3 separate regions of the Homo sapiens genome follow, and all the other regions are linked to region 3. The links come from fine-mapping of genetic effects on gene expression. A gene starts in region 3. Each other region holds a variant in brackets. All regions are shown on one strand. Distances are from middle to middle.

Region 1 (4,248 bases), 160 kb after region 3:
AAAAACATTAGCATTCCCTTTAAATATGGCACTGTTTACTTTAAGGAATAAGTATTTGCAGGCTTATTGTGACTTCCCCATAAGTGCTTTCCTTGCAGCACCTAAGACATTGCTTTATACAGACTAAAAACTGAGTTGTCTTAAAAGATATATTAAATAATGAGCTGATTATGGATGACAGCTTATAAGCAGTTCAATTTTAGTTTTTCAGTTGTAAATTTTCTTTTCAAATCTCTAAGATTGCTTTATATACAGAGGTAGGTAATCAAAGGTAAGAAATCTTTATAACCTGCAGGGTAATGTGAGTCATGCAGATGCCTCACTTCTTCCTTCTGTGTTGTCCTCGATGATCAGGAGTTTTCTATTTTGTATATGAATGTTTCTATGAATGTTTCTATGCTGTACTCTTGGGCTGAAGTGATCCTCCCGCCTCAGCATCTCAGCATCCTGAGTAGCTGGGATGAGAGGTGTATGCTAACACGCCCGGTTAAACTTTGTTTGTTTTATTTTTTGCAGGAATGAGGTCTTGCTATGTTGTCCAGGTTAGTGTAGAACTCCTGGCCTCAAGTGATCCTCCTGTCTCAGGCTTCCAAGGTGCTGAGATTACAGGCATGGGCCACTGTGCCCTGCAAGATACTTAATATTAACTCACACACATTATGTTGTTTAAACATGGCTTATATGCTATGCTACATGAAACATTTAATCAAGCTCAAGTATTCCTCTATTATCAAATATGTGAATGGGTCCAATTTTTTTCCTGCTATGAATAGTGGTGAAAAGTCTTAATTTTGGGGTTAATTTTTGTTAATTTTCCTCAAAGTGAAATTAACAAGTCAGTGGGCATGAACCATTTTATTCATTATTCTTTTATCAATTATTATTTATTTCTTAATTTATGTCAGAAATCGTGTTCACTGCTGGGCATATGGTGGTGATTACTGAAAAATAAAAAAAAGGTTTTTGCCCTTAATTTTGTAGGTCTGGTCACACATGCCAGGTTGCTCTCCAGAGAGTGAACAATTTACAAAACACTCAACTATTCTCATTCCCTCCAACTTTACCAGCATTGGTTATAAAATTTTATTTCCTTTTTTCTAGTTTAATAACTATGTCATGGCACCTGAAAATTATTTTGATTAGCAATTGTTTAGTTGCAAGTAAAGTGTGCATTTCTTCAAAAATCATCAATTTATTCATCTTTTCTCTTTTGTTTTAATAGGATAATTGGTAAATTATTTTCCCTTTTATTAAATAGGAATTTCTCTTTTTTTCTCTAGTTTCTTAGAATTCTACTTTGAGTTTTAAATAGACAGTAATCAGACATAGTAGAAGAATAAAGTTTGACAATTCTAATAAATACCCTTCTTGGAATAGGAAATAGAATGAATTTAAAGACGTTAAAGCAATCATAATAAAGTTGGCTTAAATGATTAAAAATCTCCATGAGCACAGATAGCATTTTTGCTTATCCATGAATATATAACACTGATTTTTCAACAAACATAGCTAGAAGAAATAGAGCATAATAAGGTAATTAATGAGTCCTTTAGGAAACAAAGCTACATTAAACACATTTTTATTTACTTAAGAAAAAAAAACAACAAAAAAAAGAAAAAACCTCAAAGCAAAAGTGATCTTTATCAAATCATCATTGAATAGACTTCTTCTTCAGGAGCTTACAGAGATATTTTGAATTTAAAAAACCTCTTGGTCTGACAGTAACTTAAGCAGGTATCCTGATTCATTAACAACAATGTCACAGCTGCAGCACTAACATAGCCACCAAGCAACTTTAGATTGTTGGTTCAGCTGAGACAGCTCAGCTTGTAAATCAGATCTACCCTGGCTGGCTTTGATTGAGTCAGCGCCTCTCCTTCCTAGAGCTTCAAAGGCTTTCCTAGGAGTCTTTCCTATCAGTCATGGGCCCTTTGGCTTCCTCTCTCAGGAACTCTCCTCTGGTAGGTTTTGTTTTGTATTCTAAGGGAAAAGATTGAATATGGAAATTCTTTGGAGGGTGGGGGGTGCAAAACACCACACAAAAATAAGGAACAACAAAACTCACAAAACTTGGCC[C/T]GTAACAGAAGTTCTTTTTTTTTTTTAATTTTGGAAACCTGCAAAATGGCATTTGAGTTATTTCTTTTCTCCCTCAAGAGTTTCTTTTTCTGCTAACTTGTAGATTTCCTCACCCAATCTCTCTCTCTCCAGGGCCCAAACACATACACAGACACACAGACACACAGACACACACACACACCCCCACAGTTGATGTGTTGATGTGATGGTACTGAAACTGATACAATCTTTAAAAATAAATTCCTAGAACTTAATGAAATTACTGTTATTTGATCATTGGTTAATCCAAGATAAAGTCAAAAATCTATCTTCCTTCAATAGGAAACTTCATAAATGTATAAATTCTGTAAACCGGAAAGTGACTGAGGCAGGTCTTAATTGATTAGACGTTTCTTTAGCCAAGGTTGAGAGGACGTGCTTGGGAAAAAACACAAATCACAGGAGCACCTGTGACCTATGCTTTTTCCAAAGGGGATTTTGGGAACTGCAATATGTAAAGGGAAAGGAGCAAGCAGGAGGGGAAAAAAAGAAGGGAATTTAGGCAGTGAGGTTCTCATTAGCTTCAGTAAATCTACATTTTACATGTGAAAAGAGAGTAGAGGAAAAGTTAATTATGCGTTGTCATGCTCAGTAAATCTATATTTAACTTTTTAAAAATTTAAATAGGTTTATGGGGGACAGGTGGTGTTTGGTTACATGAATAAGTTCTTTTTTTTTTTTTTTTTTTTAAGCAGAGTCTCACTCTGTAGCCCCTGCTGGAGTGCAGTGGAGCGATGTTGGTGATCTGCCTCCCAGGTAAAGCAATTCTCGTGCCTCAGACTCCTGAATAGCTGGGACTACAGGCCTGTACCACCACACCCAGCTAGGTTTTGTATTTTTAGTAGAGATGGGGTGTTGCCATGGTGGCCAGGCTGGTCTCAAACTCCTGACCTCAAGTGATCCACCCGCCTTGGCCTCCCAAAGTGCTGGGATTACAGGCATGAATCACTGTGCCTGGCCCATGAATAAGTTCCTTAGTAGTGATTTCTGAGATTTTGGTGGACCCACCACCTGAGCAGTGCACACTGTACCTAATGTGTAGTCTTTTATCCCTCACCCCCTCATACCCTTTCTCCCGAGTCCCCAAAGTCCAGTGTATCATTCTTATGCCTTTACATCCTCATATCTTAGCTCCAGCTTAAGAGTGAGAACATAACGATGTTTGGTTTTTCACTCCTGAGTTACTTCACTTAGAATAATGGTCTCCAATTCCATCCTGGTTGCTGCAAATGCTATTATTTCATTCCTTTTTATGGCTGAGTAATATTACATAATATATATATATACCACATTTTCTTTGTCCAGTCATTGATGATTGATGGGCATTTGGGCTGGTTCTGTATTCTTGCAATTGTGAATTGTGCTGCTATAAACGTGTGTGTAAGTATCTTTATCCTATAATGACTTCTCTTCCTCTGGGTGGATACCCAGTAGTGGGATTGCTGGATCAAATGGTAGATCTACTTTTAGTTCTTTAAGGAATATCCACACTGTTTTCCATAGTGGTTGTACTAGTTTACGTTCCCACCAACAGTATGAAAGTGTTCCCATTTCACCACATCCATGCCAACATCTATTATTTTTTGATTATGGCCATTCTTGCAGGAGTAAAGTGGTATTTATTGCACTGTGGTTTTGCTTTGCATTTCCCTGATAATTACTGATGTTGAGCATTTTTTCATGTTTGTTGGCCATTTGTATATCTTCTTTTGAGAATTGTCTATTCATGTCCTTAGCCCACTTTCTGATGAAATTTTTTTTTTTTCTTGCTGATTTGAGTTCTTTGTAGATTCTGGATATTAGTCTATTCTTGGAAGTATAGCTTGAGACAGTTTTCTCCCAATCTATGGATTGTCTGTTTGCTCTGCTGATTTATTTCTTTTGCTGTGCAGAAACTTTTTAGTTTAAGTAAGTCCCATCTATTTATCTTTGTTTTTGTTGCATTTGCTTTTGGGTTCTTGGTCATGAAGTCTTTGCCTAAGCCAATATCTAGAAGAGTTTTTCTGATGTCATCTTCTAGAATTTTTATGGTTTCAGGTCTTAGATTTAAGTCTTTGATCAATCTTGAGTTGATTTTTGTATAAGGTGATAGATGAAGATCCAGTTTCATTCTTCTACATGTGGCTTGCCAAT
Region 2 (4,248 bases), 470 kb after region 3:
TTCACAACTTAAAGAAGCAGAATTTAAAACACAAAGCTTCTTTGGAGGAGAAAGAAACCATAAAGAAGGCACCTCTGGCCAATGGGATAGTGAATTAAATGAAAGAGGACATTTTTGAATCCCGCAAGACAAAAGGGGAACACAAAACTAGATAATTCACAATCCCATTGCCTATCATAAAAGCAAACAAACAAAACCATTGAAGTTTTCGAGTTTTGAAATACTGTGAGACAGGAGTATCATTAAATTAAAAATCTTGTAAAACACTGTAATACCACACATAAAAAAATAGACAAGAGAAGATTAACAGATTCAAAATGAGCTTTTGAAAGAAATCTGAAAACAAAATTCAACACATATTAACTGAGGAAATTTTCCCTCAGACTAATAACCATGAAGCAGAAGAAAACTCCAAGTCAAAACTATAAATGGAATGAGATAGTCTCACAAGTAAATGAAGATTTGAAAAAATAATCTAAATCAGAAATTCAAAATCTGAGGCTAGACATGGAAAAAACCAGTAAAAATTAAAAGAAAGTTGATTGAATTCAAAAAAGAAATGGAATTAAAAGACAAAATTAACATAGAAATGAAGAATGGATTTTAAGACGCCCATGAGAGAATTGATTTTAAAAAATTAAATAAGGAGCATTGAAGAAAAACAGAAAAATAATTAAGAGAATAAAAATGAGTGAAGAAGTGAATATGATACAAAGATAGAAAGAGAAGGAGTAATATGTGTATTATTGCAATCCCTGAACAAAACAAAGAGTGAAAAGCAAAACTTTAGGACATTAGACATTAGAAAATAACTATTAACAAAAACATTGGAAAATAATGTTTGAAATTATAATCACAGAAAACTTCCCAGACATTTAATAAAAAGTTTGAACCTAAAAATGGGAAGACCCCACTGGGTACTTGGGAAAATACAGTTTATGAGAAAATTTAGTTTATCATTAACCCAGACTGATAAACTTTAAGACATATTCTAATAACCATTAGGTTTCAGAGTTAAAAGAAAAATTCTCATGACCTCATGGCCTAAATAAACAAACATGTAACTTGCAATGACAGATATATTGGACTGGCATTGGTCTTTTGATAACCCAATTTTAAAGCAGTAGTATAAAAAAATGCTTAATGAGAAAAACTAGTGTAAATTAAGTATTTGATATTCAGCCAAACTGTCCCTCCAGAACCAAGCAAGACTACAGGAAAATAGATAATAACAAGCAAGAACTTAGGTAAATTTGTATGCAGTAACCTTCTTGGGTAATCTATTAGAATATGAACTTTATATTTTTAATAACATCATTTAAAAGAAGCCTGGGACCATTTTTGGAAAATTCTTTTTAATTCAAACATTCCAAGCATATTGAACTAATGGAAAATTTAATTTCCTGAGAAATGTATGCACCAATATTGGTGGATGTACTTGAGAAAAATAATTAACACTATATTCCCAATAGGGTTTTTTCTTTATTTGGGAAACATTAATAAATTAATAAATTTATTCTGGGGATTAAAGGGACTTGAAACCTTCAAAGGGAAATTCACCAAGAATCTTGAAAATTATTCAAGTATAAATGAGTATGGAGGGGAAAATTATGAGGCATAAAAC[A/G]CCTGTCCTCAACAGGTAAAACTAATCAGATAAGAAGTTTAAAAATTTACTATTTGGAAAACAATAACTTGGCATCAAATCAGTGTGGCTAAAGGATTAACCAAGGAGATCTCTATAAAACAAACAAAAACTCTTAAACAGAAATAGTACTTCTTGAAAAACAAAACTACAATATTCAGACCAAATTTGATTTGTACCTCCTCCAAGCTTGAAGGTTTGTAAAGAAAGCTGGTGCCTTATGTCATCCCAGATTTGCAACCAGGTAGCACCATGGAAACATGCTGACTTAGTAGTTAAAACTTCTTCTCCATCAAATGATGGCAGTAATCCCACACCCCGAAAATACAAAGACACAAGGAGCATTATCTTTATTAATTTGCAGATATTAATCTGCAAACCATTTGATTGTGAATCAGACTTCCCTGAGTTTCCAGAGCGCTTTCAGGTTCAATTCTGTGTTCAACTAGGGGCATTTTTCACTTTTTAGTATCTGGTCAAGTTCTAATCTTTGTTCTTTCCCCCTGGAAAAAAAAATGCAGTTTATTGAAAATTAGAGCCAATTATGTTATTGCATTTTTCAAAAATATATCTAAGAGACCTTGGAATTATTATAAATTTTTTTGTCCCTTAACCTGGAAACATTTTTGATTAGCCTATGAGGTGGTGATACTTTTCCTATAACTGAATACATTTCTGTTTGTTTATATATTTTAAAAATTCAATTATATCCCTGTCTATCACCACTTGTATATTTAGCATTGGTATTACTTCATTGAGGAGGAACAATTTATGTGTTCCCTGACTTGGTAGCTTGCCATACCTTAGGGAATCCTCTCAATATTTTTTTCCTATGTCTGTGTCTGAAGTTGAAAATCCCAAGCAATTTTATGTCCTTACATACTGCTAACTATCCACCTCTGCCCAATACAATGACATCTATATTGTCCCACATCTCTGGTTTTACTTCAAAGACACTTCTATAACCAGAGTATATGGGACAAGTGGCTTGAATAGGGCAGAGAACAATATTGAGTATCTAAGAGTCAGATGTTGTGATGGACATTTTAAACCTGCCATCTAATTTCATCTTATTATTTCATGGAAGAGAACATTGTGTCTCAAAGAGGTTAGGTAAGCTTTCCAAGACAAATTCAAGCTTATCTTAATCCAAAGCCAAGTAGTACAAGAACATGATATGAGAAAAAGCAAGAAAATTCTGAATGCTCTTTTAAATGATTTTTAAATCTGGTTAACCCAGCCTTTCCTATTCTTGTGATCTTTGACATTAGAGACTTTGAGAGAGTGTTGAGGGTGGTGGGTAACTAGGTATAGAATTATCAGTTCCATTTGGAAGATTGCAAAATAACAAAATTACTAATTACGAAGTGAGAAAGGAAAAGAGTCTTTGTGAACATTCATCTTTCCTTCAGAAATATAGTATCCTAACCACATTGAATTTTTCCTTCCTAACCATCTCTAAAAACTATTATCTGAACTAAAAATCTCAGCACTAATCTAGTTAAAATATGTATTTGTCTTGTTTTACCAGAAAAGTTCTTTGAAGGCAGCAGTCTTGATATATACAGTCATGCACCATATAGCAACGTTTTAATCAATGACAAACTGCGTATCTGACAGTGGTCCCATAAGATTATATTATATTTTTACTATACATTCTCCATGTTTAGATATGTTTAGACACACAGATACTTACCATTGTGTTTTAATTGCCTACAGTATTCACTAGAATATGCTGTACAGGTTTGTAGCCTAGGGGCAATAGGCTATAGCATATATCCAAGGCGTGTAGTAGGCTATACCATGTAGGTTTTGGGAAGTACACTCTATGAAACCTGTGTAATAATGAAATTGCCTAAGGATACATTTCTCAGAACCTATACATGTTGTTAAGTGACACATGACTGTATATTTCTTTAGTATGCTCCAATTCCCAAATGGAGGTTAATCTCATAGAATTGAGTTTTGTTGAACCAACCTGTCCCAGGTTTCAACCCTTGTTGTGATTTTCCTAACCTTCTACTTTCTCTGTTGTGAGCTGCAGCAACATTTTATAGAGTTGTTATTTTACTGAGCTGTTTCTCTGGAAGCAGTTGTAATGTCTGTGGGGATAATGTACCACTTTCCTTTTTAGAGGAGCACTGAGAAATCCAGAGAAGCTTTTGGAAGGTATTGACACTGCTCAAAAGGAAACATTTTAAAATGAAAACTAGACACTTGACAATTAAAATTCTTCATGATATGACTCTGTTTTATCATGAAGCTTGAGGTTTCTGAGATGTTACCCATCTCATTCATGTATGTCTGTACCTACTTATATGTCTATCTGAATACTGCAGAAACACAAGGCATTTGGGTAGAGAAAAGCATTCTATATTGATGCTCACAACCACATCAACAGTAACATTGTTGCATTGGTCCCTCACACCTAGACCTATAGGCAACATGATGAGTTCTAATGAAAACTTTCCAGGCAAGTGGTTAAGTTTCACTGGTAGAGGAGAGATGATAACAGAAACAGCAATGGATTTATCAGCTTTCACTCTTCCCTTCTGAAAGATGGGATAGATAGGATCCTGGATTGCACTCACTGTTTTTAATATGTA
Region 3 (4,248 bases):
GTTTTCACATTAAGATTTTGCTATTTCTAGCTTTTGGTCAAAACAAAACTAGGTTGAATTCATAAGAACAAACATCTCCTCTGGACGTGTCTGGGTTATACCAACAGTATATTTACTGCACACAGTGACCTCATGAACTAGGGAAGTGTCCTCTCTCAATGTAAGATAGCACCTGTCAATGTAAGATAGCACCTGTCATACAACTCAGAATGCAGACAAGTGAAAGGTCTTGGGGAGCTGACCTTAATTGCTTCTCTGGGTCAACAGGCCAGAACACCTAATAAGGACATGGAGGGGCTGACCTAGTAACAGCATCTGCATCAAAGAGAAACTACACTGTTCACAAGATTAACTTTCTGATACTAAGAAGGGAACAGTAACTTCCTTATTTAGAAGCTGGTGGGTTTTTACCATATTTCCTAAGGGGGTGAATGATTAGCAATCAAGTTCAACCCAAAGAAAGTGCCCATTAGAATCGAGCTATGTAATTACTAATATATGTCTTTAAGTTGTACAAACAAGCGTTTATATTTACCAGATCTTGAATTTTTTCGCTTGAAACCATCCTGGACCCTTTAATTCAACCACAAGTTTGCTTTCGAACTGAACTCACATAAATACGAGTAACACTTTGTCCTCATTTATTCTGAACATTCAGAAATAAAAAACTAAAATAAGAAACAACTTTTTTTTTCTTTTGCAGAAGCAAAGGGACTCAGTACCACAGGAAGTTCGCTTTTCTGTGTCACTATATCAAAAGCTACCACAAATGCAGACAATAACGGCTCTTTAATATTAAAGGGAAAAGCTAACCTGTCCAGCTACAGCAGCAAAGTAACCATACAGCGGATCCTGAGTTTGTCCGGGAAACGCAGGCCCTCCGGGAGCCCCTCCATACTGTGAAACAGGAAACACATACACGTCATTCTGCCGAATCAAGTTTTCTTCTTTCACCACTGAGGGCTTTTGTGCAAGGCCAGACAACTGCCCGCCTGCCCGCCCTTCACAAGGCTCACCTCCCCACCACCGGGCACACTCTGCCAACACTCCACCCCTCTCTTCCATTCACACCCCGTAATTTAAAAACTGGCGACTTAGACCATAAAGAGTTGCTGTGAAAGTGATGTCTACATATGTAAAGCAACTTTTAAAATCCCTATTAACCTGAAGGTTACTGAGGTGAGTGCAAACTAGGTAAGCCAACGAATGGCAGGGCTTCAAATTCTCCTTTTGTTGTTACAGCATTTATGGTATTTTAAGAGCGTTTTATGAACGATGGAAGGCTGGAGTTGGTAACATTCTGAGACGGGTGTAGCCTAGGGAAGAGTAAGGTGTCCGGCCGGGCTGTATCTCGTGGGTGGCGAGGGAACATTGCCTGTCTCGGAAACAGTTCCCAAGACAACGCGCATCCCAGACGCCCGGCGAGGCTGCCTTCCTACAGGTCTTTTACTTCAGCAGGTTTTCCCTTTTTTTCCGTCCCCCTTCTCACTCGTTTTTTGTTTGTTTGTTTGTTTGTTTGTTTGTTTGTTTTTTAAAGGGAGGAAGGTATATCATTCTAGAATAAAATGACTGTTGTTGCTCTGGGAGGCAACCAAGAAGGCGGGGGTGGGGTGGGGTGGGGGTCAGCCAACACCCAATTAACACGATTTCACGCCGCGTATCCGAGAAGCCGCAGGGTGGGCTTCTAGGGTCCCAATCCACCCTCACCTTGGCCCCGCAGGGCCATCCAGGAGAAGGGACGGGGAAACGTGGGGAGAGGCCGAACCCCAGGGGCCTAGGGCGAGGCCGCGAGCGCAGGGAGAAGCCGAGGGCGGAAGGAGCCCGGGTAGCCGCCCAGCAGCGCCTCACCCCGCTGGCCGCAGCATCTCCAAGGTGGCCTCTTAGCGCCCCGGAGCCGCCTGGGCCGCGATCCCGCGCAGTCAGCACTTACCCCGCCTGGGTAGTACCCGCCGCCGGCGCCAGGATGCCCCGGGTACGCCATGCTGCAGACTGCGCCGCAGCCGCCCTCGCCCTGTGCGCCAGGCCTCTCCGCCCCCTGCCCCGCCCCGCCCTGCCGCTAGGGGGCCGCCCCAGAGCGCACCACGCGGGCGTGGGGGACGCGCTCCGCAGTCGTCTCCAGCTCTTGCCTGTGCGCGCGGCCGTGGCTCCCCTGCCTGCGCGCTTCTTCGTATCTTTGCCATTACGGCGCTAATGCAGTGCACGACTGAAGGTCCAGTGGCGGCCTACGACCTGCGAGGCAATTCACACCAGGGACTTTCCTCCCTCCAAAACTAATGGCACATTCCAACACCAATACACCACCCCAGGAATTCTTTTTTTTTTTTTTTCCTTCGGACTTGGCTATTATCTGGCACATTTCTTATTTTAAACAACTTTATTGGACAGGACGGAGCTATTATAAGCGGAGCGCACCATCGCGAGGCAGGGGCTGGATGCGTTAGGGCAAGCCTTAGGTGCCAGTGGGTGAAGGAGTCTTTGAAAGATGGAAATACGAAAGCGCCCTTGGAAAATAAGAATTAACTTGACGAACTGTGTGCAAGGGAGAGTTTGGCTTGCTGTTGGTTGCAGAGTTCACTGAACGACAACGGCGTATTTCCTTCCTAGGGGACAATTCCTTGCCTGTTTAAGCTGAGCGTGACTTGTGTCCTGAGTAGGACAGAGGGCATTTTCCGGGCAGGACAGACTCACACATATCGTTCTTAGGAAAATGAATTGTTTGAATTATCTGGATGATTCAGACAAAACAATCCATTTCCCTAAAAGTATTCAGCTACTTTTTATATAAGAAAAGTTTAGAACAAACTAATAGTGTACTGGTAAGTATTCAGGAAGATAAGAGATAGGAACTTCTATGTAGGTTATTCTTCTTTACTTCATATATTTTTCTATCTTCCAGTTGAATAGTCCGAAGCAATTCAGGCGTGAGCTTTTTGTTTTGTTTTGTGTAATTTCAATGACAGAAAATTGCTTGCCCTTCACTGTTAAGGACTAGACTTAATGATTTCCTGAATTTTAACGTATTGAGAAACGCATTAATAAGCAAGATTCACAGTATTTGTTGTGGAGGTTGCACAGAAACATTTAAAGGGTCATCAACATTTCACAAATATTGGAGCACCCGCCAATGTGGTACTGTGCTTTTTCGCTGTGGTGGACGGGCTTCCTCCATTCTAAATTCGTGGGCTATTGTCCTCATTCGGTTCATTGTTTTTCTCTTGTGTGTAACTTCCCTCGCAAGCCCTTTTGAAAACCAAAGTCCGAATTGTGAGAAAAATTCTAATAGTCCCTGTTGTGGCATAGCAAAGACACTGCATGTTGCCTGTTTTGTGTTTGATTCAGGAAGCAGGTTACTGTTTTCAATCATCAAGGTAGCAATCATCAAGGTAGATGAGACATCTAATGAGTCCCCTGGTCTCTCTTTGGAAGCCTGTTTCTTCAGAAAGAGGTAACCGACTATAAAGAGTAGATGTCAGGGCCGAACTCGATGTTGAGTACAAGCTCAAGACTCAAGTTTGAAAGAAGTATAAAGCATATAAAATATTTTTAAGTACTGCAGAATTAGCTTCGTGGATAAACGGCTATACGAATTGGCATATCAGTTGTCCTTAGACATCTTCCCACTGCTTTACTGCTAAAGAATTGAATTTTTTTTTTAATTACACTTTAAGTTTTAGGGTACATGTGAACATTGTGCAGGTTGGTTACATATGTATACATGTGCCATGCTGGTGCGCTGCACCCACTAACTCGTCATCTAGCATTAGGTATATCTCCCAATGCTATCCCTCTCCCCTCCCCCCACCCCACCACAGTCCCTAGAGTGTGATATTCCCCTTCCTGTGTCCATGTGATCTCATCGTTCAGTTCCCACCTATGAGTGAGAATATGCGGTGTTTGGTTTTTTGGTCTTGCGATAGTTTACTGAGAATGATGATTTCCAATTTCATCCATGTCCCTACAAAGGACATGAACTCATCATTTTTTATGGCTGCATAGTATTCCATGGTGTATATGTGCCACATTTTCTTAATCCAGTCTATCATTGTTGGACATTTGGGTTGGTTCCAAGTCTTTGCTATTGTGAATAATGCCGCAATAAACATACGTGTGCATGTGTCTTTATAGCAGCATGATTTATAGTCCTTTGGGTATATACCCAGTAATGGGATGGCGGGTCAAATGGTAATTCTAGTTCTAGATCCCTGAGGAATCGCCACACTGACTTCCACAATGGTTGAACTAGTTTAC

Alleles and levels. Alleles are on the strand shown, and positions count from the first base shown. SD is a standard deviation of normalised expression in the study named. Not every link is listed here.
As copies of A replace G in region 2, the expression in pancreas of the gene that starts at base 1,993 in region 3 goes up (small effect, 0.26 SD a copy in GTEx).

Evidence for each region. PIP is the estimated chance that this variant, and not a neighbour inherited with it, causes the effect.
Region 1: its variant is the best candidate, but not a certain one, in a credible set for the expression of SRI in whole blood (INTERVAL, PIP 0.86).
Region 2: its variant is the best candidate, but not a certain one, in a credible set for the expression of SRI in pancreas (GTEx, PIP 0.79).

The regions. Positions count from the first base shown.
Region 1 is chr7:88,375,781-88,380,028 of GRCh38, forward strand. No RefSeq gene overlaps it. Among named protein-coding and RNA genes, the nearest start is that of STEAP4, 71 kb to the left of the region's middle. The variant C/T (reference allele first, on the strand shown) is at 2,077.
Region 2 is chr7:88,691,642-88,695,889 of GRCh38, forward strand. All of the region lies in intron 1 of LOC107986816 (a long non-coding RNA gene), which reads left to right. Among named protein-coding and RNA genes, the nearest start is that of ZNF804B, 66 kb to the right of the region's middle. The variant A/G (reference allele first, on the strand shown) is at 1,625.
Region 3 is chr7:88,218,046-88,222,293 of GRCh38, forward strand. It overlaps SRI (sorcin), which reads right to left and starts at 1,993. Exons shown (of 8, transcript NM_003130.4): 1 at 1,931-1,993; 2 at 814-897. The coding sequence starts at 1,981. SRI-AS1 (SRI antisense RNA 1) reads left to right here. Exons shown (of 3, transcript NR_120517.1): 2 at 704-1,179. RefSeq lists silencers at 979-1,068, 1,716-2,215.